Linked DNA regions of Homo sapiens. The protein of the gene in region 1 interacts with the protein of each later gene in a pairwise test. Each region holds a gene or a part of one and is shown in the gene's direction. Other genes may lie near its edges.

What was found.
Region 2: the proteins of MAPT (region 1) and ZFHX2 interact in binary tests that used the Homo sapiens proteins (3 or more experiments, as listed by UniProt).
Region 3: the proteins of MAPT (region 1) and CAPN10 interact in binary tests that used the Homo sapiens proteins (3 or more experiments, as listed by UniProt).
Region 4: the proteins of MAPT (region 1) and HSP90B1 interact in binary tests that used the Homo sapiens proteins (3 or more experiments, as listed by UniProt).
Region 5: the proteins of MAPT (region 1) and VILL interact in binary tests that used the Homo sapiens proteins (3 or more experiments, as listed by UniProt).
Region 6: the proteins of MAPT (region 1) and DDX6 interact in binary tests that used the Homo sapiens proteins (3 or more experiments, as listed by UniProt).
Region 7: the proteins of MAPT (region 1) and MSI2 interact in binary tests that used the Homo sapiens proteins (3 or more experiments, as listed by UniProt).

What each region holds. Positions count from the first base shown.
Region 1 is NC_000017.11:45,897,550-45,901,447, forward strand, and holds part of MAPT (microtubule-associated protein tau), read left to right. Parts: exon of another isoform or gene 1-1,249; intron 1,250-3,898. UniProt on the Homo sapiens protein: Promotes microtubule assembly and stability, and might be involved in the establishment and maintenance of neuronal polarity.
Region 2 is NC_000014.9:23,541,170-23,545,992, reverse strand, and holds part of ZFHX2 (zinc finger homeobox protein 2), read left to right. Parts: intron 1-4,823. UniProt on the Homo sapiens protein: Transcriptional regulator that is critical for the regulation of pain perception and processing of noxious stimuli.
Region 3 is NC_000002.12:240,589,050-240,593,872, forward strand, and holds part of CAPN10 (calpain-10), read left to right. Parts: intron 1-293; coding exon 294-425; intron 426-1,765; coding exon 1,766-1,962; intron 1,963-2,883; coding exon 2,884-3,101; intron 3,102-4,823.
Region 4 is NC_000012.12:103,933,410-103,936,909, forward strand, and holds part of HSP90B1 (endoplasmin precursor), read left to right. Parts: intron 1-546; coding exon 547-878; intron 879-3,500.
Region 5 is NC_000003.12:38,000,276-38,005,048, forward strand, and holds part of VILL (villin-like protein), read left to right. Parts: intron 1-1,180; coding exon 1,181-1,318; intron 1,319-1,426; coding exon 1,427-1,585; intron 1,586-2,120; coding exon 2,121-2,300; intron 2,301-2,892; coding exon 2,893-3,038; intron 3,039-3,979; coding exon 3,980-4,124; intron 4,125-4,773. UniProt on the Homo sapiens protein: Possible tumor suppressor.
Region 6 is NC_000011.10:118,762,850-118,767,672, reverse strand, and holds part of DDX6 (probable ATP-dependent RNA helicase DDX6), read left to right. Parts: intron 1-2,317; coding exon 2,318-2,464; intron 2,465-4,366; coding exon 4,367-4,461; intron 4,462-4,823.
Region 7 is NC_000017.11:57,681,772-57,685,928, forward strand, and holds the end of MSI2 (RNA-binding protein Musashi homolog 2), read left to right. Parts: 3' UTR 1-2,918; downstream 2,919-4,157.

The sequences.
Region 1 (3,898 bases):
TTGCGCGGATGACGGTGGGGTGCTGAACCAGCCGGTGCGCCTCTGGAAATGTCTGGGCACGGATCCTGGGGCCATCGACGACTCCTCCCCATTCCCAGCAGGCGGGAGCTCTTACATTCCGAGCGAGTGACCCCTCTCACCCTCTGGCGCTCACACACCTGTAACTCCAAACCTCCGTCTCAGAATGGTCCAGGCTGGAAGGGATGATGGGGGCTCCGACAGCGACTGCCTAGCTCACCCCTCTGCGTGCTCAGGCTCCAGGCTCAGCAGGACCAATTTGAGTTCTATCTGATCCCCCTCGGCCCCTTAACTGACCCATCCTACAGGAGACAGGGAAATGTCTTTCCTACCGCGGTTGATTCTGGGGTGTCATTTTGTGTTTTGTGATGGCTGCTTATATTTACTGTATAAGCATTGTATTTACTGTATAAGCATTGTATTATAATTACTGTATAAGCTGCTTATATTTACTGTATAAGCATCTCCAAATCCTCCCTCTACGTAAACAAATTAATGGATAAACAGATAAGTGTATCCCCTGCCCCCACCCCTGCTACGCAGGTCCGGAGTGACTCTTGAAGCTCATACATTCCTTGGCCAAGTTTGCTTCTCTAACAGATGTTTATATAGCAATAACCTGGCTTGGCTCTTGGGTTCACCTTTGGACGATTTGGGGAAGGGGCTTGTTGGCTTTGCTGGGTTTTGGATGAGTGACAGTCCATGACTGTTCCTGCTGGAAGGGCGTGACTTTTAAGTGGTTTCTAATATCAGGCATTGCTCCTCCGACAGGAACAAAAGAAATGGATACTGCCCATAAATTGTTAGAAAACTTAGAATCGCTTTGATTGAGGAAAGGTTAGATTTATTCCGGTTGGAAAAAGTGGCCTTTCTATTAAACGTGCCCTTTGACCCTCATGCCCTTGGAGGTCGGTGCCAGCCTGGAGATGGGATAAGATTGTGGTTTTCCTTCTGCCTTTTTAACATCTGTTGTTACAGTCCATTTGTTGAAAATTTAAAGAAACTGTTTTATTCCACTTTCCCTCAGCATTTATGTGTGTGGTTTCAGTAGCTCTGTGGCTATATGTACGAACACGTGTTATTTTTCCAATTGGACATGTGATAATTTTCCAACTGGACCTTGCCTTCTATTGATGTATTTATTTAGCATCTTCCTTACTCCCTCCTTGAAAAAGAATCACTCAAAAACAAATAAAAACAGCCGTAGGGGCCTAATACAGTGCTAGACATACAAGAGGTATTCGGTCCATACCAAATGGATTTTATCCATGAAGGATAAATGGGGAAATACAGTGGGAAGCAGGTGGGAAACTGCGTTTGACTCTGCTCTTTCCTCCACCACCACTTTCCTCATCACCGTGTTCAGAGACCCCCAAAGCCCCCTCACACTCCCAGAAACACCCCCCTGGCCACTCCTAACTTGCCATGCCCAGGAGTTAGGTGCTTCCACTAGTGACATGGAGCTGGCGTTTGGGGGGCACCTCAGCAGGTGACGGGAAGAGAAGACCCCAGCCTCACCAGCTGGGCTGCAGCAGGGAGAGGAGTCCTCATGTTCCAGCAGGGACTCTCAGCTGTTTTCCTGTAAAACCATGGTTCTCAACTGGGGGCCACTGAGATGTCTAGAGAGATGTTTTTGTTTTCACAACTCGGGGAGGGTGCTACTGACATCTTGTGGGTAGAGGCCAGGAATGCTGTTAAACATCCTACAAGGAAGGCACAGGACAGTCTCCTACATCAAAATATGACCCAGTCCCAATGTCACCACTGCTGGGGTTGACACTGGCACTGCTATCTTAATTACATTCATTGAGTGTCTTTTAGGAGGCCCTATTCTAAGTGCTTGCTAAGATTATCTCATTTAATCCTCACAACACTTCCGCTATGTAGCAGGTGCTGTTATTATCTCCGTGATGGGGAAACTGAAGCACAGAGAGGGTTAGTAACTTGCTAAAGGTCACAGAGCCAGTGGGTGGTGGAGCTGGTTGCCTGACACTAGTTCCCTCCCCTCTCAGCCACATGTGGGTTTACTTGGCCATTGTGGACTAGTCTGGGAACCCAGATATGATCTATAACATTGACCCAGTAGAATATTGATTCCAAAACCACTGTCTCACAAATGAATTTTTACAAGAGTCTGTAATCGGAGCATGACCCAGAATAAGGTTAGGGAGATGTGGAGTTAAAGCTCTCAATTTCTTATCTGGCCCCGACACAGAGAGCAAGGCATTTCACTCTACATTGGTGCTCTGTTTATAAAACAAAGAGCAAATATCTCTTCCTAAGGTCCTTAAACCTCTTCCCCCAATCCAGGGTTTCTGGACTGCTCTGCCATATGACGGGGCAGCTGGTTTGATTGACCCAGGGAAGGCTGGAAATCAAGACTGGGGGATCAAGACGTAGATTCAGTGTGGCCAAGGTCAAGTCTCTGAGGTTTAGGGACATCAGATCCCCAGCTTAGGTTCTGTACCTCGGCAAGGTGAAAGCGTTGGCGCCCACTGATGAGGCCTGCTCTGAGATTGTGGGTGTGGGTTGAGTTGGGTGGGCATAGGCAAGTCCTCTTGTAAGAATCTTTTGGCAAAGATGGGCCTGGGAGGCTTTTCTCACTTCCTGGGGCCCAGGCTTTGCAATAAGTATTCCATTATACTGTGGTACCTTGGGGCTACCTGAGAATCCTCTGTCTCGCCCCTGTTGCCTTGCCAAAGAGTTTGCTGTCCAAGAATTCCTTTCCTGTCTCCAGGTGCCATGCTCCTGCCACCTCTGCCAGGTTCCCTGCCTGCCCAGATGGCTCCCAACTGAGTGTGAGGAGGAATTTGAGACAGGTTTTGAGCTTTCTGGGTTCTCCAGTTAGGAAACTTTCTGTAAGCATGCAGATAGAATGGGCTTCAGCAAAATACAAACTCGAACAACTTCCATGTATAGTCCCTTAATTTTCTTTGCTTTTTTCATATTTCATCAGGCTCCATGCTGAGCCCAATCAGGGACCCGATAGAAATCCAAACACCATGTCAGCGAGTCCCCAAGAAATGCATTTTGTGCCAAGGCTATTCAAGGAAGGTTTGGGAGCAGCTCAAGGGCAGACACTGTTACCCTCCCCCAGGTCCCCAGTGCAGGGCAGTGTTCTGCATGTGGAGGCAGTTTGGCCTAATGGTTAAGGAGGTAGGCTCTGATCGGGCCTCCTGGGCACAAATCCCAGCTCCCTGCTCACTGTGAGACCTAAGCCATATTGTTTAGCTGCTTGGAGAGTTTTTTGTCATCCACAACTTGGAGTATGATGGTACCTGTCTCACGGGTTGCCATGGGGTTCACACAAGCTAACCCGGTACTCACTAGGGCCAAGCACATAGTAACTGCTCAGTAAATGGCATCATCGGCGGTGTCCTGTGGATGAGTGCTTGTGATTGGCTGAATGACCAGAGGGGTCTAAAGATCCTGGTGATGGAATCAGTTGTACAGATAAATTGTTACACTGAGTAGGGATCAAGATAGGAAAAGTCGGCAACTACCCAGCTCCCCTGCACCAAACTGGGCAGAAGTGGATCCTCTGAAAATTGCACACACCCATGTTTAAATGTACACACAGAACTCTTGCCACAGGCAAGCGGAGATTTGTCATCTGCTGTCCCTGCCTCATCTTCTTCCTGAAATCCACTCCATGCCAGGAATAAACTGCATGCTCTCCACCAGCCCAAACTGACCTGCCTTCCCGCCAGCCATCCCGGGCAGGGTGACCTGGCTTAGTACATCGGGTTCAGAGATCTTTCCAGTTTACTCGTTGAATAAAAAGTGAGGGCTGATCGAGAAAGTAATGGCAGTCAGGGAAGGCGAAGGAGGTAAAGAAGAGATTTTACAAATGAAGTAATTCAACAGAGTGCTGACATTG
Region 2 (4,823 bases), on another chromosome or scaffold:
GGTCAAGAGTCAATTACCAGTCATTTGGCTTCTCAGTGAAGGAGGGCAGAGGGTGGGCCAAGAGTGTTAGATTGTGTTTCCCCGAGGACCTGATGGGGTAAACGCCATTTCCATCCTCAGATTTTTCATTCCTTGTTTTGTGATGCCCTTTTCTTTCCCTAATCTCAAGCCTCTGTCTTCTTTATTCCTGGGCCATGGGCATGGGTCTAGATTTTGCTGCTTCTCTTGCCTCCATCACAGTTGTCTGCATTTCCCCCCAGCCATCTCTGTGTTCTGTATCAGTGGTCTGCTTGGGCCACAGATGCCTTTCTTCTCATCTCCAGCTTCTTCAGGCTATGTGGTTTCCACAAACCTACAGATAAATCCTGCTGCTTTAGGGAAAGAAGTGCACTTGAAATTAGAGAGAAGGCCAGGGAAGGATGAGAAAGAGGTTCTGGAAAGATTAGGCAGGGAGAAGTTGGGAGAGAGTATGACAGAGATAGGAGTCAAAGGTGAAAAACCCATGACTTGGAGATGGGAGAGAGCACAGAGAGATGGCCACAATTTAAATGAGAAAGGAAGGAGTGCAGTAGGCTGTGAGGACTAAGAAATTGGAGAGCAAACAGGAAGCCTGACCCCTCCGCAGGGAAATGAAGACAGCTGAGGAGGGCGGACGAGTGGTTGTGTAAGAAGTAGGGCTGAAAAGCCAGGCCATGGTCTCGGCCTGCGTGTCAGTCCTGAGTTCAAGCAGTGCTGGCTTTGACCCTTATGGGAGGAACTGAAGTGGCAAATTAACGACGATAATGAAGTCACTGCTCCTTGTTTGTCTTTGCTGGTTTCCCCTTGAGATTTGTCCTTTGGCCAGACAGGGCAATGTGGGGGAGGGGAGGAACTGGAGCCGTGAAGGGCGGGGGAGAGGGAAGGAAAAGAGGATGGAGAAATGGCAATGTGGAGGACAAATTGACTAGAGGAGAAAAAAGGGAGGGTGATGAGTGAAGAGAAGAGGAGCCCAGAATCGAAGAGAGAAGCGGGAAGGGAGACATGAAAGGAGAATGAAAGAGGAGAGGGGTGCAGAAAAACGGCCAGGGAAAAGAACAATGGGGGACAGGAAAGGGAAACCTGGTAGGAGGAGCAGAAAAAAAAGGTGGGAGAAGGAGAAGTGGAATGGAGAAATGGCGAGCCGGAGGGAAAGAACGTGGCCAGGGCTGCAAAAGCTGCAGCTGGCAGGGCCAGTGGGCGGGGCCTCATCTCCATCTCTAATGGCTGTGAAATGAGGTTAGCGCCATTAGAGGCAGCGAGAGTGTAACGAGATCACACTCATTAGGGCTGGGCCATCCCAGTAATTACCACCACCCTAAACACGCCCGCGCCAGCCGGGCCAACCACATACGGGCTCACAGCAACACACTGAACAGGATACCCTACTACTGAAAGGGAAGCACAGGGCCCACACACGTGTACATGGAGGGCCTGGGAAAATCCAGCCAGGGAGAACAAGCACCTTCACCAACCCCAAAGAAGTACTGGGACAGGGCTACAGCCAGGTTACCAGCTGCCCCACATACAATCAAAAAACAACATACACATACCCCAACACAGGAAATAAGGCATATGGATGAATAATTATTCCATTTCCATTTATTGATACACCCAAAGTGCCAATCTCAATGATGATCCTCTCAATGGACTCAACTCCATGAGTTCCCCATTCCCTTTTTTTTTTTTTTTTTCTGTTTTCTGTTTCTGATGTGTTTGTTTTTAGACAGGGTCTCACTCTGTCACCCAGGCTGGAGTGCAGTGGTGCAATCTCGGCTCACTACAACCTCTGCTTCCCGGGTTCAAGCGATTCTTCTGCCTCAGCCTCCTGAGTAGCTGGGATTACAGGTGCATGCCACCACGCCCGGCTCATTTTTTTTGTATTTTTAGTAGAGACAGGGTTTCACCGTGTTGGCCAGGCTGGTCTCAAGCTCCTGACCTCCAATGATCCACCCACCTCGGCCTCCCAAAGTGCTGGAATTATAGGCGCGTGCCCGGCCTGCCCCATTCTCTATATGAAGAGACTAAATTGAGACTTTACGCAACTTACCTGAGGTCATTTACATATTAAGAAACAGAACTAGAATTTGATTCCAGGTCTGTCTGACTCTAAAGGCTATTTTTTTTTGTTTTTTGAGACAGGGTCTCCCTCTGTTGGAGGGAGAGTGCTTGTCTGATGAAGTTCATATGCTAATATGGATACACATGTGTAGACCTTCAACTTTAAGAGATGTTGTCACAAATGGGTACACATATCATTCAAAGAACACTACCCGCCATTATCTATCCCTTCCCTCCTGTTCCCACTCCCTCCCTCCCGCTCCTTCCCTTCCTTCACACAGGGCATGGCCAGTGCCCCTGCATGGACTGCAGTGTGAATGACGCACCCTGGAGTTGCGCAAAGCAGTGCTCCTCTTCTGGTCCATCTTATACTAAGAAACAAACCAAATGGAAGACAGCCATCTAGCACCTTCAGGCGGAACATGATAGCACATATGCTCAAGGTGACACACAGAGTAATACAATCAGACTCAAAAGACCTCATTCAAAATGCATACCAGCCAGAGTTCAGAAGCTTACAAATTAACCCAAGAGCAGAGGTACTGACATCAGGCTACCTGAGTTCCAATCTCAACTCTACTTCTTTTTAAGCAGGAGATCTTAAAAATTACTTAACCCATCTAAATCAGTCTCCATGTTTGTAAAATAGGAATGAATAGCTACATCTATTGCATCAGATTGAAGTGGAGGATTAGGTGATGTGATACTTGCCGAGGGCCTAGCACGGTGCCTGGCCCATGGCAAACATTTAAAGATGTTAGCTATTTACTATTATTACAATTAGTTTTTGTTGTAATACTATTTAAATGCAGTCATTACATCACACAGGTTCACAGAATAAAATAACCAGAAAGACTTATTTACATACACGGTCACTCAGAATGTTTTCCTTCCAGCCGGGCGCAGTGGCTCACGCCTGTAATCCCAGGCCAAGGTGGGCGGGTCAGGTAGTCAGGAGATAGAGACCATCCTGGACAACATGGTGAAACCCTGTCTCTACTAAAATACAAAAAATTAGCTGCTTGTGGTGGTACGCGCCTGTAATCCCAGCTACTCGGGAGGCTGAGGCAGGGGAATTGCTTGAACCCAGGAGACAGAGATTGCCGTGAGCTGAGATCACACCACTGCACTTCAGCCTGGCAACAGAGACACCATCTCCAAAAAAAAAAAAGAATGTTTTCCTACCAAGTTCTGGGAGACCAAATTCTTCAGCGGTCCCCCATGCAAGGATCAGATAGGATCCTGATTCTGAATTTAAGGGGACAACTCCCTGAGTGCTCATACAGAAGAAGGGTTCCGAGCTGGTTCGTGGTTGTCTAAGCCTGTGGTATGTAGAACGAGAGAACCACATCTAGCAGGATGTGAGTCTCTCCAGTGTACTATAAAATCACATAGATCTGTGCAGCAGAGCAGCTCCACACTGCTGTCCTAACACATCCAACACTTTCCAAGTCATCAAGGGAGATGCCTCCTCTCCTGGACACCCACCCCCATCAGTAGCAGACACTCTGCAGCACACCTCAGCAAATCCATGCAAATGTGAACGTGTGTGGTTTCAGCCTACCGCTTCCCTTCTCCTCCTGTCTGCTCCCTACCACCCCCATCTTCTTCCTGAGCCTACCCTTTTCTCCTCACACCTCACCCAATCTACTCATGCCCACCTTAAGCATCTTGCAAAGTGCAAGAGACAGCCTCCTTGCCACCTCCTTCTCACTGGGGACAGGCCACCATCCCAATCTGGTGCCAGAGCTGGGAGGCCTGGAAAAGATTCAATATATGCAAATCAAGACCTAGCTTCATCTTCCTCTTCACTTCCTTACCTCTCCCTCTCTCCTTCCCTTCTTCCTCCCTCCTCTTCTCTGCCTTAGCGATCTTTCTTTGCCCTTTACAACACTCCTTTTCCTGCTTGTCTCATTCCCTGCCATACTCGTTCTTTCTCTCTCTTTTGGACAAAACTTATTTGCACAAAGTAAGCTCTCCTTAAATATTTATAAAAGGGGAAGGGTCTAGAAGAGATAGGTAGAATTAAAAGGGAAGAATCAAAGTACTGTTTGTTTTCTTTTTAAATATAGAAGGTAAGATTTAGAGATGATAGAATGATAGTTTTAAATGCAGGGATGACTTGGAAAGGATCTTTGGAAAAAAGAAAAAAAGAAGACATGCAGGGAAAGGCCAGAATAGTTTTGATCCACTTATTAGCTGCTTCTGTCCAAATGTGAGCCTGGGCACAATTTCTACTCTTTGCTCTGGAATAATGGGTCTCTCTAGACCCAGCAATCAAGAGGGCTAAGAAGTGAACTCTATGGCTGAGTAGACTAGATTTAAATCCTGGCCGGGTGTGGTGGCTCAGGCCTGTAATCCCAGCACTTTGGGAGGGCGAGGTGGGCAGATCACCTGAGGTTGGGAGTTTGAGACCAGCCTGACCAACATGGAGAAGCTCTGTCTGTACTAAAAATACAAAATTAGCTGGGCGTGGTGGAGCCTGCCTATAGTCTCAGCTACTTGGGAGGCTGAGGCAGGAGAATCGCTTGAACCCAGGGGTGGAGTTTGCAGTGAGCCAAGATCGCACCATTGTACTCCAGCCTGGGCAACAAGAGCGAAACTCCGTCTCAAAAAAAAAAAAAAAAAATCCTGTCCATCTAAGATTCTGCCCTCAGTTGAAAAGGGCAGAGATTAGAGGATGAGTCTTGGTCAAGAAAGGGGTGAACAGAGGCCGGGCGCAGTGGCTCACACCTGTAATCCCAGCA
Region 3 (4,823 bases), on another chromosome or scaffold:
AAAAGTGAAACTTTTCGAAGCCAACATTTAGCTGTTTTGAGAAGGAGCTTGCTAGAGTTTGGGATTTTTCCAGTAAGGAAGGAAGGCACCCCAGAATTAAGCTGGACAGAGGCATTTGAAGCCAGGAGCTGAAGGACACCCGCTGCAGGAAACCACCTTCCTGTCCCTTTTTGGGTAACACTGATGATCGGAAAAGCTCCACCCCAACTCCTGTCATCTAGAGCCTTGGGTTCTTAGTTTGAAGGGTTCCACAGCAGGCATGATCTAACTCTGGACAACTTTCTGTATCTCAGGAGATTTGTGCCACACCCCGGCTGTTTCCAGATGACCCACGGGAAGGGCAGGTGAAGCAGGGGCTGCTGGGGGATTGCTGGTTCCTGTGTGCCTGCGCCGCGCTGCAGAAGAGCAGGCACCTCCTGGACCAGGTGCGGGGCCCCTTCCCTGTGTTTGTCCTGGAGCCGGTTTCTTTTTGCGTTTCTCCAGCCTGCTGAGTACCAGGAGGCCTTGCGAAAGCAGAGCTGTGCCGCAGCCGGATCTCCTGCTGTGTTGGGGGAAGGCAGGAGAGTTCCAAGGCAGAGGCTGAGGACTGCACTCTGTCCCTCTGCTGCAGGGGGGGGTGCCTTGGCCTCGCCAGAAGGCTCCATCAGGGAGGTTCGCCCTGCTCTGTGCTCTCCTGACCCCCGGACTCCATGGAGTCAGATCACCACGTTTAGAATAAAGAGACAAATGTGCCAGCTCACAGGAGGACGGGGCTGGCTGGCAGCCTCTGCCTCAGATCTCTCCTCAGCTAGCTCGCTGGTTTTCTTACAGGTTTTGAATATAAGTTTGCAAAAAGTTATTAAACCTGTTTCTGTGGGTAGACAGATACTCTGGGAGGAGAAGGCCTTCTCAGGTTTTCCTTACCTGGGAGTGTTCACCGTTTTATGCTTGGCTTGTTGCTAAGTGTTGCTGATTAATGCAGCGGCGTCAACAGTGTGACCTCATTCAGAGTTTCACTCATGTCCCAGGCCCCATGGTAAGCGTGTCACAGTCACTGGCTTTCAGACACATGGTCTTACCAGCTTTGACTTTTTTTTTAAACGAGAGTGCTAAAATCACTGCCATTGTGTTTCTGGCCGTAAAGTGGCAGAGCCAGGACCGCACCAGGTGCCTGGTGCCCAGCCTGCACTCCCCCGATGCTGGGTCAGAATGCTTACCCCTGAAGGAGCCCTGCGGTGGACGCTGTGGGTGCAAGCAGCTGGCCCAGTGTCGGGGCGCCAGGCTCCCAGCAGCAGGAGGGGCTGCTGTTCCTGTGGTGACGTGTTGCTTGCAGCCAGCTCGGTCAAGAACTGGGTCACTCATGCCCTTGAATGTCACATTTGTTTTGGCTTCAGGTCAGATGCTTTTAGTGAGGGCAGCAGAGTGTGTCCCGGGATATGTGGCTCCCTCGGTGTGGTCCTCAAGTTTTGCAATGAGAGGTCTGTTAATTTCATGTGGGTGATGCAGCCCTGTGCAGGCGCCGACATCCAGGTGTGCCGAAGAGTTCTCTGCGACATCCAGGTGTGCCGTAGAGTTCTCTGCGACATCCAGGTGTGCCGTAGAGTTCTCTGCGACATCCAGGTGTGCCGTAGAGTTCTCTGCGACATCCAGGTGTGCGTTAGAGTTCTCTGCAGACCGCGGTGCCTGTGGAGCACTCAGCTGTGGCCACACCGCGGCCGGGACACTGGAGTAGCGCCGGGTGGTGCTTATATCACGCTCGCCTTTTGCTTCTCCCTGTGCATGGCAGGTCATTCCTCCGGGACAGCCGAGCTGGGCCGACCAGGAGTACCGGGGCTCCTTCACCTGTCGCATTTGGCAGTTTGGACGCTGGGTGGAGGTGACCACAGATGACCGCCTGCCGTGCCTTGCAGGGAGACTCTGTTTCTCCCGCTGCCAGAGGGAGGATGTGTTCTGGCTCCCCTTACTGGAAAAGGTCTACGCCAAGTGCGTGTGCTGGGGGCTGAAGGGCCTGGCCTGGGGCAAGTGGGAGCTGCCACTACCATGGGCTGCCCCAGGAGGGTCTCTGCTCACTCTGGGCTGCAGAGCCCCCTTCAGTTCTGAGGGTCTGGCAGCTCATTCTGTGAGTCAGGCTGACAGGCCAGGTGCAGAGATTCTTCTTTTGGGCCTGTGGATTGCCCACTCCCTGCTTTCCCTTCCCTTGTTCCAAAGCCCAGCGTGGAGTCGTTCTCCACAGAGAACATGTGTGCCGTCCTCCTTATTTTATCGGCCCCAGCAAGAAAGATGCTTCTTTATATTTGTTGTGGAGTGGTTGGGACAGGCAGACTCATTGTGTAGTCGTTGGGGAGGAATGAGGCTACCCCAGCATACCAACACTTGTGTATCACGGTGCTTGCTGGCTCAGGGGACCAGGACCCTCACCATGAGTCATAATTGAATAGCCTTCCCTCTTAGAATGCATTTGTCTTCTTGCCAAAGGCAACTGGACTGACAGGCAGGCAGGGAAGCTGGTGAACATGGGAAGGCTGGCTGGTGACATCAGTGCCCAGTGAGCCCTTCCATCCCAAGGGCTGTTTTAGGAAAAGCAGGGTTGGAGCTTGAGAGCCAAGGGATGTGGGCATCCATAGCTTCCACGCCTCCTGCCCTGCTCCTGTGCCCACACCGGATGCCAGAGAGTTTCTGTGTGTGGGCAGAGGACTGCAGGGCGCTCACGCTTGCTGTGAAGTAAGGCGTTTGAAGGTGAGGCTAAGCCTTGACTTGGTGAGGATGAGGAAGAAGGCAGAGGGGAGTAAAGAGGTGGGATTGAGGCAGCGGTTGGACGATTTGGGGTGCTACAGACCATGGGAATCAGAGAGGGGGCCATGCTCAATGCCAGAGGCTCACTCCCATGGTGATTGTGTCCCCTAGGGTCCATGGGTCCTACGAGCACCTGTGGGCCGGGCAGGTGGCGGATGCCCTGGTGGACCTGACCGGCGGCCTGGCAGAAAGATGGAACCTGAAGGGCGTAGCAGGAAGCGGAGGCCAGCAGGACAGGCCAGGCCGCTGGGAGCACAGGACTTGTCGGCAGCTGCTCCACCTGAAGGACCAGTGTCTGATCAGCTGCTGCGTGCTCAGCCCCAGAGCAGGTGAGGCACGTGGCCAGCATGGGAGGGCTGCAGCCAGCGTGCCCCCCACTGCCAGGCCTCAGGCACACTGTAGCTTTTTATGTGACTGGCTACACAGCCCTGTCAGGACTAAGTGGGAAGAAGTAAGCTTGTTCTCAAGGGTGGTGTCCTCAGTTTGTGACCTTCCCCTACTGTCCTCTTCCAGAGGGACGTGGCCCTTCTCTCCCCTGACCAGTCCTTTCCACTAGTGCGAGGCAGGAAGAGGTGGCACCGAGTCAAAGCCCACTGTCTGTGCCATCCCTGGCCCAGCTGGCAACCTGGCAAAATCAAAACCTGTTTTTTATTTTAGTGATAGATAACATTCGTTAAAAACAGTTTGTCTCCAAAAAATGAAAGGGGCCAGGTGTGGTGGCTCACACCTGTAATCCCAGAACTTTGGGAGGCTGAGGTGGGAGTATCGCTGGAGCCCAGGAGTTCAAGAGACCCGCCTGGGCAACATGGCAAGATCTCATCTCTACAAAAAATGAAGGAAAAAAATCACTTAGATGGAACCACATGTGACTTTTGAGTGCGCTCTCAGTTTTCCATGAGCACGCACGGTTTACGTGTTCCCTTCCGCACCGCTTCTCACACTGCCACACACGCGCTGTCAAATGTTCGCCCCATGAGCGGGTTTGCCACAGTCTCTTAATCATTCCCCTGATGTTGGATATTAAGATCTCTCTGGTTTTATATAATTATAAGCAGTATCAATGAACATCTTTATCATTTTTTTCATACTTAGGATTATTTTAAAAATATGGGTTAAAGAATATGAATATCACAGTAAACTGAAACAAGTTGTCATAGGCCTTGGTCTGGGTCCCCCATAAGCAGACCCTGAGATGAGGTTCAGGAGCACGTTGAGAGGTTCAGAGAGCCTGGAGGGCGTGTACTCCCCGCCAGCCCCGCTGGGGTGCCAGGAAGGACGCTGGCCTCAGAGCCTCCCACCTGGGAGTGAGGGCGCTGGTCTGGTGGGCATTAGCTCGGGGAGCTGTTGGTTTTGGGTGCTCCAGGGTGGGGTAGCGCTAAGTCCTAGCACTTCAGGCTTTAGAGGAAGCCCCCAGGCAGAGAGAGATGGCAGCTGGCACTGACTGGAGGTGCATTGGAGCCTGCTGAGGTGGCAAGGGGCCGCGGCGTGGGCGAGACTGAAGTCCTTCCAGGAGACCCTCCTCTCTAGACCGTTGCCCCGCCACAGATGTGGCCTTCCTCTCTGTTTGGCTCTTTCTTTTCTATGCCCATCTGTCTCAAGGTCTCTGGCCAGGTGGAGCTGTTGCCCCCCTGGGCCTCCATGCCTCCAGTGGGCTTCTAGCCAGGGCACTATCTGAATGTCCTACCTCTAGCAGGCTTTGCCAAGAGAAACACTCTCTAGATTTCTGGCAGTTGCAGATGCATCTGTGCAGCATGTTTGAGAACTGGTGCTGTGCCAGGCATCGTGCACAGATGGGTACGGACGATGACTGAGGCCTAGAGAAGGGGATGACTTACCCAGCACCAGACCCGGATGGCAGCCGAGTCAGGCCCCGTGTGCTTGCTCCTGGAGATGCTCCTGAGCTGATGGGTCACAGCTGCTAAGAAAGGAGCTCTCGTGGTCCATGGGGATCTGGGGTCTCCCGTGTAGCCATAGTGGGGTGGGCTGGAGCATCTCCAGAGGAGGAGGCAGAGGCCTGTGTGTCCTTGTCAGTTTGGGACTCCATGGTGCCC
Region 4 (3,500 bases), on another chromosome or scaffold:
ATTATAATTAAAGGCTCAGCCTGAAAACAGAGCTCTCCTTTACAACTCATTGGCCATTTATAACTCATTGGCCAAAACTAGTCACATGGCCTTAGCCATTCTTAAATGGAAAGTAGAGTACTCCTAAGTTTCTGGAAGGCAGACAGCCAGGAATATTGAGTGAAGAATATTAATGATCCATCACAGATTCCAAATAGAGGAATCATTCAAGTTGTTTTGTATTCTAGTAAAGAAATAGGCAAGACATAAAATTTTATTTTTCTTGAATTGTTTTCCTTCAAAGGTAACTTGTTTTATTTAGGTCAGCCTCTAACCTTTGACATTTAGGCCAGTCTGCCCATTTGATATTAATACTTTCTCAAATACATAAATTACTTTAAGATGTACACTTTCAGAAAAGGCCATAAAAAACTATGTGGAGGAAAATATCTCAGTTTAGTTTTCTGTATTGGAATTGATGGGACCCAAAGCTGGTTAGTTCCTCAATATTTGTTTGGCATAATGTAAATATTAAATACAACTATCTGGTTCTTGTCTTGCATTTAGTGTGATAAGGAGAAGAACCTGCTGCATGTCACAGACACCGGTGTAGGAATGACCAGAGAAGAGTTGGTTAAAAACCTTGGTACCATAGCCAAATCTGGGACAAGCGAGTTTTTAAACAAAATGACTGAAGCACAGGAAGATGGCCAGTCAACTTCTGAATTGATTGGCCAGTTTGGTGTCGGTTTCTATTCCGCCTTCCTTGTAGCAGATAAGGTTATTGTCACTTCAAAACACAACAACGATACCCAGCACATCTGGGAGTCTGACTCCAATGAATTTTCTGTAATTGCTGACCCAAGAGGAAACACTCTAGGACGGGGAACGACAATTACGTGAGTATGACCAATTCCTTATAAGAATTAATAGTCATGGTGAGGATCTTGACTCTCCAGTTCTATTCTCTGAGCAAATGACTTATTCTGGGCCTTAATTTTCCTGCCTTATAAAATGAGGAAACAGAACTGTTGTCACTTGAAGAAATGTTTGAGGACCTGCAAAGGGCCAGGCACAAAGGTTTGTGATTGCTGTTGTACATGGAGGGTATAAAGTAGGAAATAGCAGCAGCTTCCCCAAGGGAGAAGGCTTCTTGGGTACCCACAGAGGAGGCACTGCTTGGTCAGTTTCCCAGGTTAGAAGAGTAATTTGTCTGTGGAGCATCCTGAATAAAGGCATGGAGGCATAGCATGCTCACTAGATGAACAGAGTTCTTTTCGGTGGCAGTTATGGATAGAATGTGATGAACTTTTATTTATTTATTTATTTTGAGACGGAGTCTCACTCTTGTTGCCCAGGCTGGAGTGCAATGGCACAATCTTGGCTCACCACAACCTCCGCTTCCTGGGTTCAAGCAATTCTCCTGCCTCAGCCTCCCAAGTAGCTGGGATTACAGGCATGTGCCACCACGCCCAGCTAATTTTGTATTTTTAGTAGAGATGGGGTGTCTCCATGTTGGCCAGGCTGGTCTCGAACTCCCGACCTCACGTGATCCACCCACCTCGGCCTCCCAAAGTGCTGGGATTACAAGCATGAGCTACCGTGCCCAGCCAGAATGTGATGAACTTTTTAAGATTCTCAAGGTGGTGTGGAGGATGTGAGGAGTGGACAAGGGGAGACTCTTTGGGGGAAATATTCCTCTTGAAAATATTCAAGATGAGTGGTAGCAACCAGGGCTGGGGCTGGCTTGTAGAGATAAAGGGCTTAAAGAAAGTTCATGAAAGTTGTGAAAGCTGTGGAATAAAATACGTCATTTAAGGATAGTTACAAGTTTTTAAATTTGAATTAAGATCCCTCTTAAGCCAGTAACTGTTGTTTGTATGGGTGAGACAGAGCCAGTGCCCTACAGTAGCTCTCGTTGCTTATAGCACTGTGACGTAGACAGGGCAGCTTTTTGCCTTTTTAAAATTTTACCATCTTGGAGATGAGGAAATTCTATTTCAGAGGTCAGTTGGCTTGCCAACTCCTGCTAAGTGAGTAACAGAATGTGCCCACAGCTTCAATTTTTTTTTCTTAATTCAGTTTTAAGTTTTCTTAACATTAAGGGAAAGAAGCACATACTTATCATTGTGACCAACTTTCTTCATCCTAGAAAGTAACATTTCCTGTTTTTACTGCAGCAGATGTTCTTTTAATGAAGACTAATTAGATGACTGCATTTTAGTACTTTTTTAACTTGTGTTCCCAATTTACCTTCCCCTGCCTTCGTCACTAACATTGATGTCTCCAGGTTTCATTTGGAGGCATCACTAAGAGTTATGCCCCAGTGCCCTCTCTTTTTAAGCACTGGGCTAGATGTTGGAGAAGGATAGGGCAATCATTCCCAAGGAAAGATAGAAAGTGATGTCCCAAGAGATGTTAATGTCAGGTTGCTAAGAAGCAGGTGAAATTATCTGGATATAAGCTCCATGAAGGCAAACATTTTGTTGGAAGCTCCATTCCCAAAGCTTAACACTTAATTGGCAGCCATTTGTATGAATAAGTGAGGTTAAACAGGACAGTTCCATGCAGGGAACGATGGCTGCTAACACCTATCCAGGACCTAGTTTCCATGACCATGCATATCTTTTTAAAAATTTCCTTTGCCCACTTCTTAAATGTTAACATACATTTTCTCCAAGTTAAGTTTCAGCCCTTTTCTCATTGTCCATGTGATCTTTATGTAGTCTTATCCACTGCCACGGCCTCAGGTTCCATCTCTAGTTCTCAAATTTATATTCTTAGCCTAGATCAGGAGTTAGCAAACTTTTTCTTAAAAGAGCCAGCTAGTAGAAAAAAAGATAAAAGAAAACAACAAGAAAGAAAGAGCCAGCTAGTAAATATTTTTAGCTTGTGAGCTATATGGTCTGTCACATGTCCCAACTCTGTTTAGCTTGAAAGCAGGCATAGACAATACATAAGGATGTGTCCCAGCCAAGTGTGGTGGCTCATCCCTATAATCCCAGCACCTCGGGAGGCTGAGGTGGGAGGATCACTTGAACCCAGGAGTTTGAGGTCAGCCTGGACAACATAATGGGATCCCATCTCCACAAAAATAAAAAATAAAAAATTAGCTTGGCACAGTGGTGCATGCCTGTAGTCCCAGCTACTCAGGAGGCTGAGGTAGGAGGATTGCTTGAGCCTGGCAGGTCAAGGCTGCAGTGAGCCATCATCACGCCTGGGTGACAGAGGTCCAAAAAAAAAAAAAAAAAAAAAAGTGTCCCAATAAAATTTCTAATGGGTGCCAGCTGTACAGCTATAGCTTGCCAGCCCCTTGTCTAGGTCTCACTACTGGGCTCTGTGTTCATGTGTTTAATTGCCTTTTAAATGCTTCTACCTAAGATATCTAACCAGCAGCTTCTACTTGCATCCAAAACTGAACTCTTAATCCCCAAATCACTAGAACATGTGCTCTGAGACCAGGGGCCTAGTCACTCACTAGGCTTTGTCATATCATGGCTACTTATTGGCCAGGTACCACT
Region 5 (4,773 bases), on another chromosome or scaffold:
GGAAGAGACTGAGAGAGGAGGAGATGGGGCAAGGGGGAAGAAGGGGGAGACAGGGAAAGAGGAAGACAGGGAAGGAGCACAAAGAGAGACAGAGAAGAAAAGACTGGGAAGGACAGGGGATGAGGAGGAGGCAGAGGGAAGGGAGGAGGAGGTGGGGTGGAGGAAGAGCAGGGAGAGAGGGGGTACAGGGAGAAGAGAGGGAGGGTCAGTGATAGATGGGATACACAGAGAGAGACAGAGAGCCAGACAGTGGGAGAGGGAGACAGGAAAGCAGAAGGAAAGGCGAGGGACGGAGGGAAAGAGAGCCCTGGGACTCAGGTGCCAAGCACAAAGTCAGGGACAGGATCCCTCCTGGTAGGCAGTGGACAGGCAGGCAGAGACAGGGCCTGAGCCAGGGGTCCTGGCTGCCCGGTAATTGCCACTGTTAGGTGGCCTGTAGTCAAGTCAGCCACTTTTGTGAAAGACAGGGCTCTGGCTGCTCTGGTCTGGAGGTCGGCTCCCCAGGGACAACTGTCAGGGTCAGTGTGGGAAAGGACACCCAGGCATTGTCTCCTGCCATGCAGAGGTGAGGTAAGGGAGGCGTCATCATCCCCAATATACAGGTGGGAAAGGCCCGAAGCTTAGAACAATGTCACTGCCAACACAGGGCCTACCTGGGATTTGACCAGAGTCCGCCTGGCTCCAGGCTCTGCCACCCACAGGAAGAAGAAACTACACTGACAGATGTGAGACAGTGTTTCCCCTTCAGTCTTTGAACAGGCTTTGTGTTTTCTAAATGACACTGGATAAAAGGGAATTCATTCAAGAGCTCCAAGGCTTCCCTTTCCGCCCGGCTTCTGTTGCCCTGGCCTGAGCAGCGAGCAGCTGGGAGGGGACTGAACTGCCCCTAACCAGGGTTGTGGCTGGTGGGGTTGGGACTAGGGCTGGGCATGTGGCTGGGATTGGGCCCATCTCCCAAGTGTGGTGGGTTTCAGGGGTCCGTGGGGAAAGGGTCACCTGCAGATCCTTGTACAAAGCCCAGCACAAGGCCCAGAATGGGCCTGGAGCTGAGGGTGGGCCCCTGGCCTGCGTGGATGAGGAAGGCCTCAGAGGCTGGGGAGAGCTTTCCGGTTGGGTACAGGATGGGTGGGCTGGTTCAGGAAGAGCAGCCACCTGTGCCCATTGGTCCCTTATTCCCCAGGTGTGGTGCATCCAGGACTTACACAGGCAGCCCGTGGACCCCAAGCGTCATGGACAGCTGTGTGCAGGCAACTGCTACCTTGTGCTCTACACATACCAGAGGCTGGGCCGTGTCCAGTACATCCTGTACCTATGGCAGGTGTGCCAGCCTGAGGGAGGCAGCACTCACCTTAAAGCCCAAGGGCTGGGCTCTGGGAGTGAAATGTGAGAGCTGGGCCAGGCCCTCACTCACTGCCCCCACCTGCAGGGCCACCAGGCCACTGCGGATGAGATTGAGGCCCTGAACAGCAACGCTGAGGAACTAGATGTCATGTATGGTGGCGTCCTAGTACAGGAGCATGTGACCATGGGCAGCGAGCCCCCCCACTTCCTCGCCATCTTCCAGGGCCAGCTGGTGATCTTCCAGGTAGGTCTCACCTTGCCACTCTGGCCACAGCCTGCCCAGTTCTGCATGGGCCATGGCCCCCGCACACACTTCTAAGCACCTTCTCTTTGGGCCTGGGGCCTGCTTATCATCCCCTAGTTTCCCAGAGCTTGTCCAAGGCCCAGGAGCTCCAAGGTTGGCCCCCTGCCTGAGTTTCCCTCCCCAGTCCCAGAGCCAGATGAGGAATTTGAGTTGAAAGGGAGCCAGGGGCTTGCCTGGGGCTGCACACTAGCAAACCTGGTCCCCACTTTCCACCTCCAAGGCCTGAGCACCCATGCCCCAACCACTCAGAGATGGGGGGAAAGGTCCATTTAAAAAGGGTCTGTCCCTGTCCCAGACTGATGGGATTCCTGCACTCCACACTTAGAGGGTCCTGTACTCCTCATGTGAAATCACCAGTGAGGGCCTTGATGGCTTCAAGCAAGGGTCCCTGAGCTCTGAGGCAATATGTCCCACACTGGGACAGGAAGGCGCCCCTGGGAGCCCTTGCCCAGCCTGAGGCCTTGCTCTCCTATAGGAGAGAGCTGGGCACCATGGAAAGGGGCAGTCAGCATCCACCACAAGGCTTTTCCAAGTGCAAGGCACTGACAGCCACAACACCAGGACCATGGAGGTGCCAGCCCGTGCCTCATCCCTCAACTCCAGTGACATCTTCTTGCTGGTCACAGCCAGCGTCTGCTACCTCTGGTTTGGGAAGGTACCCACAGCACTGACCACTTGATTCATGCCCAGATGTAGTGGTGCCAGGCTGGGGGTGGGTCCTCTCCACAGGGCATGCAGACTTTGAGTCCAGCCTCAGATAGGCCGATGGGGGGAATGGGGAGGGGAAGAAGCCACAGGGTCCCCTCTAGAACTTGGGGAAAGTTACAAAGTGACAGGTGGACCTGAGAGTCCGCAGGTCAGAGCCAGGCCCAGGCCGCCTCCCCTCCTTACTGCCTGGAGCACAGGGCATGTCCCTTCCCAGGTCTCTTGGGAAAAGGGGAGGCCTATGCCAGTTTGCTGGAGTTTTCTCTAATATTCAGCATAAACTATGACTGACCCTCTAAGCCTGGGGGCCTCCTATCCCATGCTCTGGACCCTGCGAGGGTCCCAGACCCTGCGATCCAGATCAACTGGGGACACAGGCCTGTAGGGTGAGGAAGATGCCTTGTTCACTGGTGTCCTGCTGTCAGCTTAGGCCTCCTGTGACTTGGGCCCAGCCCCACCCCATACACCCTGTGAACGGGACGTGGGGCCGGAGGTGAAGGCCCCTCCTCATGCAGGGCCTGAGCCATCTCTTTGCCTGCTAGGGCTGTAATGGTGATCAGCGTGAGATGGCACGGGTGGTGGTCACTGTCATTTCCAGGAAGAATGAGGAAACGGTGCTGGAGGGTCAGGAGCCTCCCCACTTCTGGGAGGCCCTGGGAGGCCGGGCCCCCTACCCCAGCAACAAGAGGTAACAGGGTTGGGAGGAGAGTGTTCTTACCCAGAGGAGGAATTGAGGCCCAGAGAGGAGGGTGGGTGACTGGGATTCACACAGAGAGCTGGCAAGACGAGACTAGAACCAAGGACTCTCAGTTTCCCACTCACAGAGGCTCCCACAAGTACAGCCCACGCTTCGCTCCCAGGCCTGGGTAACTTGCGTCTCTCAGATGCTGGGGAGAGTGGGGGCAGTGGCGACCTCTGCTGGCAGCATCCCCTCCCTGCATTGTCCTGGTCCTGGGCCAGGGGACAAAGCACCCTTCCCCACCCTACAGTCCTCAGGGATCACGGTGCCCAGTGTGTGTGTATACAGTGTCATATGATGTGTGGGTATACAGTGTGTGTGGATGTGCAAGAACAGGTGTATTCAGGGTGTTGTGTGTGGTGTGTAAGTGGACAGGGTGTGTGTAGGAGGTAGGAGTGAGGCCTCAAGGGGAGGAGGGAGCTGAGTCCTGGTCGCTCTTGGTCTGCCTGTGGGGCTTGGTTTATGTGCTGCACTCCCCACAATTCTCCTGAGCTCAGTACTCCCGTCTCCTTCTCCCAGCCTGGCTTGCCTCCTTCCACTTTGGGCCGGAGACCTACTCTCTGCCAGGGGTGGGCTGAGGAGCTCCTCCCATCCCAGGGAGGGCGAGACTCCAGCTCAGGCCCTCCCCTACCCCTGCAGCCCTCTCCTAGGGAAATTCATGGGGCACCTTGCGTCACAGCTGGGTGGGGCGAGAGCTTTCTCCATGAGCAGAGAGGGACCCTGTACCCAGAGCAGAGCGGAGTGCTCGGGGAGAAACCACGGGGCTCAGAGGAGGGCCCAGGGCTCCCACTCCTGAGAAGTGGCTTCCCAGGCCCTGGGGTGGGGCACTTGTGCCATGGGCTGGGGTGCCCCTCTGGGTGGCTCACAGCCTTGCTGTCCGTGCTGGCCAGGCTCCCTGAGGAGGTCCCCAGCTTCCAGCCACGACTGTTTGAGTGCTCCAGCCACATGGGCTGCCTGGTCCTCGCAGAAGTGGGGTTCTTCAGCCAGGAGGACCTGGACAAGTATGACATCATGTTACTGGACACCTGGCAGGAGGTAAGGTGGCCATCCCTGCCTGGTGGGGCTGTGAACGGGGGTGTGTTTCTGTTTGTGTAACTGGGTGTGTGTGTATCTAGCCATCTGCCTCTGTACACAGGGCTGTGGGTGAGTCTGACCCTGTCACTGAGCAATTGCATTGCGGTGCATATGAGACCATGGATGAGTGTGCATCACCAGGTGGCAGCAGTGAGACTCCGGGAGATTAGGAGTGTGTTGGAACTCAGGGGTAACTGAGACCATGTTTGCAGTTGTGTGTGGCCCTGTGTGCCTTATGATACTATGTGTGGCTCCAGCGACAGTGCCTGCGGCCGAGCATGTGTCGGTGCTGCATGAGTGACTGTGATTGGAATGCCCAATCGCATCATTCATGTGTGTGGCTTGGTGTGAGTGTTTGCCTTCGTGCACCTGTGTGTGACACTTTGTCAGTGACTGTGAGGTCACGTGATGCTAGAACTGGCCAGACCAGTGGCAACTGGTGAAAATGTGTCTGTGAGCAAGACTATGACTGGCTGTGGGCGAATGATGGATGGGTGTGTTTGTGGGTCTGTGTTTCTGCGCACAGTGGTATAACTGGCCGGGTGTGCGTGGCTGTGTAAACAAGTGCTGTTGTGTTTGCATGCAGCTCTGTGTCTGACAACAGTGGATG
Region 6 (4,823 bases), on another chromosome or scaffold:
TGACAGAGTGAGACTCTCAACTCAAAAAAAAAAAAAAAAAAAAAAAGGCGGCTGAGGTCATGAGAAGTTAAATTAGTTGACATTGCTACTTATAAACTATGGAACTATTTCTTGTGGCAGATGAGTGTTAACAGAATTCCTTGTAGAAACATGAACTTCTGTTTAAAGGCTGTGGATTTTGGGATTTTAAGAGCCTAGGCAGTGGGGAATAAAAAATTTTCATAGTTATATTCAATGTAAGTTAATGGAATTAAGATTTCATCTCTGAAACTTTACATTTTTAGCTTTCGTGATCTGTAATTATCTTTTCTTCCCACTTTCATATGATGTAAATAGAGCCTAGGTAGCAGGAGTTTCCTACCTAGGTATTTTACACAGTGAATCTGACTCAAATGTAGTTGGGGCTTTTAGAAATATTGTTAATAAACTTTGAGCTAATAGTTGCGAACTCAACATGCTGAAAGTTTGTAATTAAGAACAGTATTGGCTGGGTGTGGTGGCTCACGCCTGTAATCCCAGCACTTCGGGAGGCCGAGGCAAGGCAGATCACCTGAGGTCAGGAGTTCAAGACCAGCCTCGCTAACATGGTAAAACCCTGTCTCTACTAAAAATACAAAAATTAGCTGGGTGTGGTGACATGTGCCTGTAGTCCCAGCTACTCAAGGAGGCTGAGGCAGGAGAATTGCTTGAACCTGGGAGGTGGAGGTTGCAGTCAGCCAAGATCATGTCACTGCACTCCAGCCTGGGTAACAGAGCGAGATCTGTCTCAAAACGAAGAAGCAGCAGCAGCAGAAGGCCAGGTGCAGTGACTCACACCTGTAATCCCAGCACTTTGGGAGGCCAAGGCAGGAGGATTGCTTGAGGTCAGGGGTTTGAGACCAGCTGGGCCAACATGATGAATCCCCGTCTCTACTAAAAATACAAAAAATTAGCTGGGTGTGGTGGCGGTTACTCAGTAGGCTGAGGCAGGAGAATTGCTTGAACCTGGGAGGCAGAGGTTGCAGTGGGCCGAGATGGCAGCCACTGCACTTCAGCCTGGACAACAGAGCAAGACTCCATCTCAAAAAAAAGAAGAGGAAGAGTTTAATATTTATATAATAGTATTGCTGAGGGAGAGTCTAAATCTGGGACACTATAATAGGTTCTCTTTTCATAAAGAGATTTGTACATTTGAGTTTTCATAATGTCCTGTGTAATGATTCAACTTTTTATTTTTATTTCTTAATTTTTTTGGCGGGGGAGACAGAGTCTTGCTGTGTCACCCATTCTGGAGTGTGGTGTCATGATCATAGCTTAATGCAGTCTTAATCTCCCAGGCTGATGTGATCCTCCTGCCTCAGCCTCCCCAGAAGCTGAGACTATAGGCACATGCCACCATTCCCAGCTAATTTTTTTCATTTTTTTTTTTAGTAGAGATGGGGTCTTGCTATGTTGCCCAGGCTGGTCTTAAACTCCTGAGCTCAAACGATCCTCCTGCCTCAGCCTCCAAAAGTGCTGGGATTCTAGGCATGAGTTACTCACTGTGCTGCCCAGCCCAATTTTTTAATACATCTCGGTATCTAGATTATAAGGGGCAGTGTTTCTTTTCTTTTTTTTTATTTGAGACGGAGTTTCGCTCTTGTTGCCTGGACTGGAGTGCAGTGGCACAATCTCGGCTCACCACAATCTCTGCCTCTCGGGTTCAAGCGATTCTTCTGCCTCAGCCTCCCAAGTAGCTGGGATTACAGGCATGTGCCACCCACGCCCAGCTAATTTTGTATTTTTAGTAGAGATAGGGTCAGGCTGGTCTCAAACTCCCGGCCTCAGGTGATCCACCCACCTTGGCCTCCCAAAGTGCTGGGCTTATAGGTAGGTGTGAGCCACCGTGCCTAGGCTATTTTTTTTTTCTTTCTTTCTTTTGAGACTGAGTCTCACTCTGTCGCCCAGGCTGGAGTGCAGTGGCGCGATCTTGCCTCACTGCAGCCTCTGCCTCCGGGTTCAAGTGATTCTCCTGCCTCAGCCTCCTGAGTAGGTGGGACTACAGGTGCGTGCCACCACGCCTGGATAATTTTTGTATTTTTAGTACAGATGGGGTTTCACCATGTTGGTCAGGCTGCTCTCGAACTCCTGACCTCAGGTGATCTGCCCACCTTGGCCTCCCAGAGTGCTGGGATTACAGGCGTGAGCCACTGCATCATAAGGTGCAGTTACAGGTGTGAGCCACTGCATCATAAGGCGCAGTATTTCTATAGCTTCTTAAATTTTGTAAATAATGATGTATAGCATGTTCTCCCACCTCACCCCATATTTTCTTATATATTCCTTGATACTGTTTCAGCAATGGTGATTGTTCCCACTAGAGAACTTGCTCTACAGGTCAGTCAAATTTGCATCCAGGTCAGCAAACACATGGGAGGGGCCAAAGTGATGGCAACCACAGGAGGAACCAATTTACGAGATGACATAATGAGGCTTGATGATACAGGTAAGAAATGATTACTAAAAGGTAGTGTAGCTCTCTGTTATTTTAGTCACAAGTATTTCAGTAAATTATTAAAAATTGTTTTTAAGAATTAAGGAACAGAAATACTGCAGTAAGAAAAGGAAATGACCACTGCATTCAAGCGAAAAAGACAAATTACCATAATTGAAAACGATATTTGACTTTATTAGTAATTGTAAAACAGCAAGTTTATAATAATTTTACCTGTTTAATTGGTAAAGCTAAAAGTATTAGTAGACGATAATGTGAGTTTGTGGACAAATAGGCTACATTGTAAATGTGGGGGTGTAAACTTACATCTCTATCATGGGCAATTTGGGAGTATATTTTAAAATTATAAATGTATATATAATGTGTGTGTGTGTGTGTATATTTTTTTTTTTTTTGGAGATGGAGTCTTGCTCTGTTGCCCAGGCTGGAGTGCAGAGGCGCAATCTTGACTCACTGCAATCTCCGCCTCCCAGGTTCAGGCCATTCTCCTGTCTCAGTCTCCTGAATAGCTGGGATTACAGGCTCCCGCTACCACGCCAGGCTAAATTTTTGTGTTTTTAGTAGAGACGGGGTTTCACCGTATTAGCCAGGATGGTCTCGATCTCCTGACCTCGTGATCCACCTGCCTCAGCCTCCCAAAGTGCTGGGATTACAGGCGTGAGCCACCGTGCCCGGCCATAAATGTATATTTTTAAGAATCTTTCCTGAAGAAAAAAGTTGGGTAAATGCAGGGCTGTAGGTACAAAGTTGTTTGCTATGGGGTGGTATTGTCGTGCCGAAAAATTGGCCAACTTAGAAGGAGATTGGCTAACTAAATACGTTAAGGTATAATCTGAATAGGATTCTACATAGTCATTAAAGAGTAAAGTTGACCTGTATTCATTTTCATGAAGAGGTTTCATGATACATTGCCGAGTGGAAAAAGGTAACAAAACAGCAAGAATGAGATCACTCATATAAAATTATATCTTGATTTTAGTTAGAATATTATATATGATAATTATGTGATACATTCTTTGTATTGCATAGGTTTTTAAAAAATTATCTTGTTTGATCCTTTTAACAATACTCGGCTCACTGCTCTAGATTAGAGGCATTGCTCTTATGTCAGAAGTCTGGTGTGCCTTCTGCTATTAATTGAGAATTATCCTAAGACAAGAAAGTATGCCTACTGTTGAAAGCAGCAGGTGATTTAGGAAGCTGTACCCCACCCAATGTAGAGGTGAAACAAATATTTTTTAAGCATCCTGTGGTGAAATGGAAGTCTTTATCCTAAAACACATCTTTGTGCCTTTTTGTGTTATTTCCACCTCTATAACACAATGTGTTTCTTCTCTTTCTTTCTTTTTTTTTTTTTTTTTAATTTGAGACACAGTCTTACTCTGTTGCTCTGGCTAGAGTGCAGTGGTGTGATCTCGGCTCACTGCAACGTCTGCCTCCTGGGTTCAAGCGATTCTCCTACCTCAGCCTCCTGAGTAGCTGGGATTACAGGCTCCCACCACCACACCCAGCTAATTTTTGTATTTTTAGTAGAGACAGGGTTTCACCGTGTTGGCCAGGCTGGTCTCGAACTCCTGACCTCATGTGATCCACCCACCTCGGCCTCCCAAAGTACTGGGATTACAGGGATGAGCTACTGCACCCGGCCTAGTTGTTTCTAATAAAAGATAGTCATGTGCTGCATACAATGTTGTGGTCAGTGACGGCTGCACGTATGTCGGTGTTCCCATAAGATTATAATGGAGCTATACAATGGAGTAGGCTATACCATCACATAGCAATGCATTTCTCAGAATTATCATTAAGCAGCTCAGGACTGTAATATTATAAACCTTTATCCTCTTTGCTCAAATTAAAATTAATGAGAATGTATGTTTTCTAAATCTTGCATAGTGCACGTGGTGATTGCTACCCCTGGGAGAATCCTGGATCTTATTAAGAAAGGAGTAGCAAAGGTTGATCATGTCCAGATGATAGTATTGGATGAGGTAATGTCTCTTCATTTGGCATTATACTGTTCTGTACTTTTCTGTGCTTTGCTTATAACTGCCAGTGAATGAAGCAAAAGCTGCTTGTGTTTATGATCTAATAAACACATAAACAATCAGTTTAAATTAATTTGCTTATAAAATGTGTTTTACCCGTCAGAGGGAGTAGATTATAGGCATTCATTGGAATTCAGCATTTTGTCTTTTTCTTAGAGATAGCAGACATTAGGTTTTAATTTTTTAGTAGAGGAGTGAATAACCTCAATGCCAAATTTATTCTAAGTCTCTTTCTGCTCTGTGATTAATTTTTAAAAGCATATAATATATATTGTCTCTTCTCATTTTGTGCATACTACTTTGTA
Region 7 (4,157 bases), about 12 Mb from region 1:
TATCAAAACTTGTTCAAGTCATAAAACAACAAAACATAAGTTTTATTTAAAAAAAAAAAAAGAAAGAAAAAATAGTAAATTCCCAGAAATTCAGTGTTTAGACGAGGGAATTTAATTCCTATTTTGTCCATGTTGGTGATGTACTGTACTTCCCTTCCTTTTCTCTGCATCCCCCATCACCTCATAGAAGACTCTTTGTTGATCATTGTATGTTAATAATGTATAAAATGGCTATCTTGTAAGCGTGCTGTCCTGGTACTAGTGTAGCGACTTTTTTTCTCCTCTTTCTTCTAGTACATATTGATAGGTATAACATAATTAAGGTTTAAAAAAAATTAGACATAGTTATTCAGATTTAGGACCAGTAAGGATAGAACTTTCTCTTATTTATGAAAAAAAATGCTAATAATTTTGGGGCAGTTTTTTCCTTTAATTATTTTTTTCAATTTCAAGTTTAATTTTATTTTAGCTGATCTGATGTGGTTTCAACTAACCCAAGGTCTCACCATGTTAAAATGCCGGCGGACTCTACGGCGTTTTGTAGATCCCCCCCCCCCCACCCACTGTGAAGGGGTGCCATACTACCTTAAATGCTAATGCTAGATATGCAAAACTGGATTTTTTTAATTTATTTTTTAAAAGAGGGAGGCATGGTATATTAAAATGATTTTACTAAGAGAAAAAATATTTTTTTAAGAATGCTCAGAAGAAATTGATAATCTGTGTGAATATGTTTTAGATGTTTATATACCTTTTGAAGAGACCCAGTAGCCCATAGCACAAATCTTGTGGAAATCCGATATGTTTTAATGTGGCTACCTAGGTTTAAGGTTCACGTTAGTCCCCCCATTCCATCTAGAAGTCCATTTTGAAAGATTTTTGTAAATTCTTTTAACACTGATGTTTCAGCCTCGTCTTTGTTTCAGTTAAGCTCAATGGCGAACATGGGAACCACCTTTCGCCTTCCCTGGGGGAGAAACCCTCTTGGCTGATGGCTTTTCCCCGGAATTATCAAACAGCCACCGGGTGACTTTCTGGCTTCCAGATCCATCTGCCTGAGACCCCCGAACTCCTCTCCTCCCAAGCAGAGGCGAGTGAGTGGCATTAGCTCCCGGACCCATTCCCGGTCCTAGCTGGGCATGGGGCTGACGGAGATGACCAAGCCTTGGTCTGCTCTCTAGCAGCTTCCACAGACTTGGCTCGTGGCCTTCCTTATATCCACTGGGAACAAACAGCCTCGCGCTCTATACCAAACAGCCTCGCGCTCTATCCCAGTCGCCCATTAGCTTGATTCAAACAAAGCCCCAGCAGGCCTTTGCGTTTTTATCCTTCATAACCTTCATCTTAATTTGAACTTGTAGCTTGGACTTTAAGGTAGCATGGCTCTATTGCTGTCAATTTACTGTTTCACTGCACAGCAATCACAGCCAGTGAATGTTACACACATCTTGCTAGACTAGTATAAAAATCATTGGGTAATTGTTGGTTCTAATGACCTGAAAGGTGTTCAGTTTTTGTTCTTGGTTTTGTTTTGTTTTTGATTTCTTGGGGGTGGGTTTTGCTTGTTGTTCCTTTTCATTTGGGGGTTTTTGGGGAAAAAATTTATTTTTGGTTCCAAATAGAAAAACAAAACCTATTTTGATCTTTAGTGCAAACGAGGGCTAGGGACTTAGCCTCCTCCACCACCTCCACACTGCTTCATTCTGCCATTCACTCACTGCAGCATATTCAAGAATAAAGCAATATCGTTTACTACATTTTTTATTGAAGGTCAGCCATGCTTTCTGTATTATATTGCATATGAAATTGTTTACAAAAGAAACACTAACTCATACTTCTCTTTATTGGTTGCAAGTGGCACGCAGGAACAGAGGGAGAGTGGGGGGCTGGTGGGGGAGGGGAGATTTTTTTTTTTTTTTCTTGAATGTGCTTCGCAAGCCAGGCTATCTTCCAAGGAAGGCAGACAGTGGGAGAGCAGAGGGACTGACTGCAGGCAAGCACATTGAAGAAAGACACTGGCGGGTTTCCCCACCCTCACCCCAAAGCAGAAAACTAGCAGACGTCAGCTCAGCCCCGTCCTGGGCACAGACACTACACAAGGAGACGCTGGAAGTTAAGCAATACTTTAATACTGTAATATGTTTGTTTTCTTTTTCTTTCTTTTTTTTCTACCAAAAAAAAGTAAGTAAACTAAAACACAAAAACATATAAATAAAATCCATCCCTCTTGTCGGGGACCTGCAGGGGGGCAACCTTAATCCAAACACCTGGCTATCAAATAATCAGAATGTATTGTCTCAGACAGGATTTCAGTTCCGGGAGGCAGGGGCATGATGGGGGAGGGGGCCGGAGGCTGAGAGACAAAAGTTCCAGAGCCTCCCTCGAAGGTTCTCTACTACTGTATTCTGTACATAATGTACCATCCCATGTGGAATCTGTGAGTGTCCTCTTAAGTAGCGTGGGCTAGCCAATCTGCCGTTCATGGTGTATTGTAAACTCCGAATTCCATATGTAATAGGATGCAAGTCTAAGCGTTTCATGTGGACATAAATGTATCTAAATAAAACTTTCCCTAGCACTGTGGCTGACCTCACCCTTACTTTTATACTTTAGTATGAAACTGATGAGAACTTTGGTAGTGAGTATTTTTTTTATATATATACATATATATGTACTATCTATATATATATCTCAAGCATCTTTCAGGTCTTTGTGTGTGGCTTTCTTAAAGCCCTGTTGTAAAAAATTACTATGTGGATGGCAGTCTCTCACATCACAGATGTGGAAAGTATAATTTTATATTTGTATTTTCAAATAAATAAGTTTGTGAAAGGTTTCCATCCTCTACTGTGGTCCAGAAATCAATGTGTTTGTCTGACAAAAAAAAAAATAAAATAAAATAAACTGTTTTGAACAGAGTTGTTTGGTGTTCTTTCACTTGCAGAGGAGGTCTGGGGTCTGGGAGAGCTGTTGTTTTGCTTGGGCGGGAGAGGATATCATCAAATCGCACCTGCCACCCTCACCCCTCAGCATGAATGCTGGCCGTGGGCCTCCAGCAGCGAAGAAGTCCCTGCCTTGTCCCCAGGGAGCTTGTGGCACCATTTTTATGAAGTGGCAAGAGAGCACTAAGATGGAAGAGCAGACGGGAGAGGGGTGTAGATTAACAGCAGAAGGTACACAGAACCCATGAGTGGACAGGGAATAAACCCCAAAGGTCCTGCGGATCAGAGGACCCAGATGGTGGAAGGAGCTAAGGGGCCCTCCCGGGTGCTGCCCTCAGTTATCAACAGTGCTGGGAGAAGGCGCCAAACCGCATTCCACGACCCCTGAGTAGGGGTCTGAATAGGTATCAGACCTCTGCCCTCAAGGAGTTTTAAGTTTTGCCTACTGGAAATCATTACAATCACAAAACTAAAGATGTAGAGATAGATCATCTACAATACTTTCCACCCCTCTCTCTACCAAACAAACGAGAGGATACAAAAGAATTGAGACCCAGTACATTGAGGGCAAGTCCCAATACCTGGTGATGACGGCTACAGCATGCTCTGAATCAGTGGATTCCTCAGCTTTGAAGCCCTGGAGAGAAACACCAGGCCAAGAGGAGTGCAAGGGATGAAGCGTGGATGAAGGACAGTGGCCCTTAGCTGCTTCCTCAAGGCCCCCAGGAAAGCTGTATTCTCCAGGACATGGCCTTCTTGGGTCCCTCCTCCAATTTCCTGTCTCCTGCATATAACAAGTTTATCTTTTTTGTAAAATGGGTCTTCCGGTGAAAACCAGAAAACCAGCTAGACAGGTTCTTTCAAAAAGCTGCAACACTAACAACTTTGTTTTAAGGCATTCCCGCTACACTGGGGTCCTAGAGGAGACAGTCGAAGGTGCATTCCTTTATCTGGAGCTGGAGGCAGGAGCACTGGGTTCCAGGCCCACCTCCTGTGTGTCCACAGACAGCACTCCACAGTGTCTCGTTACATTGTTTAGGGGCAGGAGAGAAGAGTATAATCCCTGCTGCCCCACAGAAATGAAAGACCAATGGAAGCTGATGTGAGAAATCCCTTTTAGGAATCCTGAGAGAAGTGAGCCAGACACATGAGGCCGGCCATCGTGGCCATGCTCCTCATCCTGATTGCTCAGCTCAGAGAAAGGGGAGGCCCAAA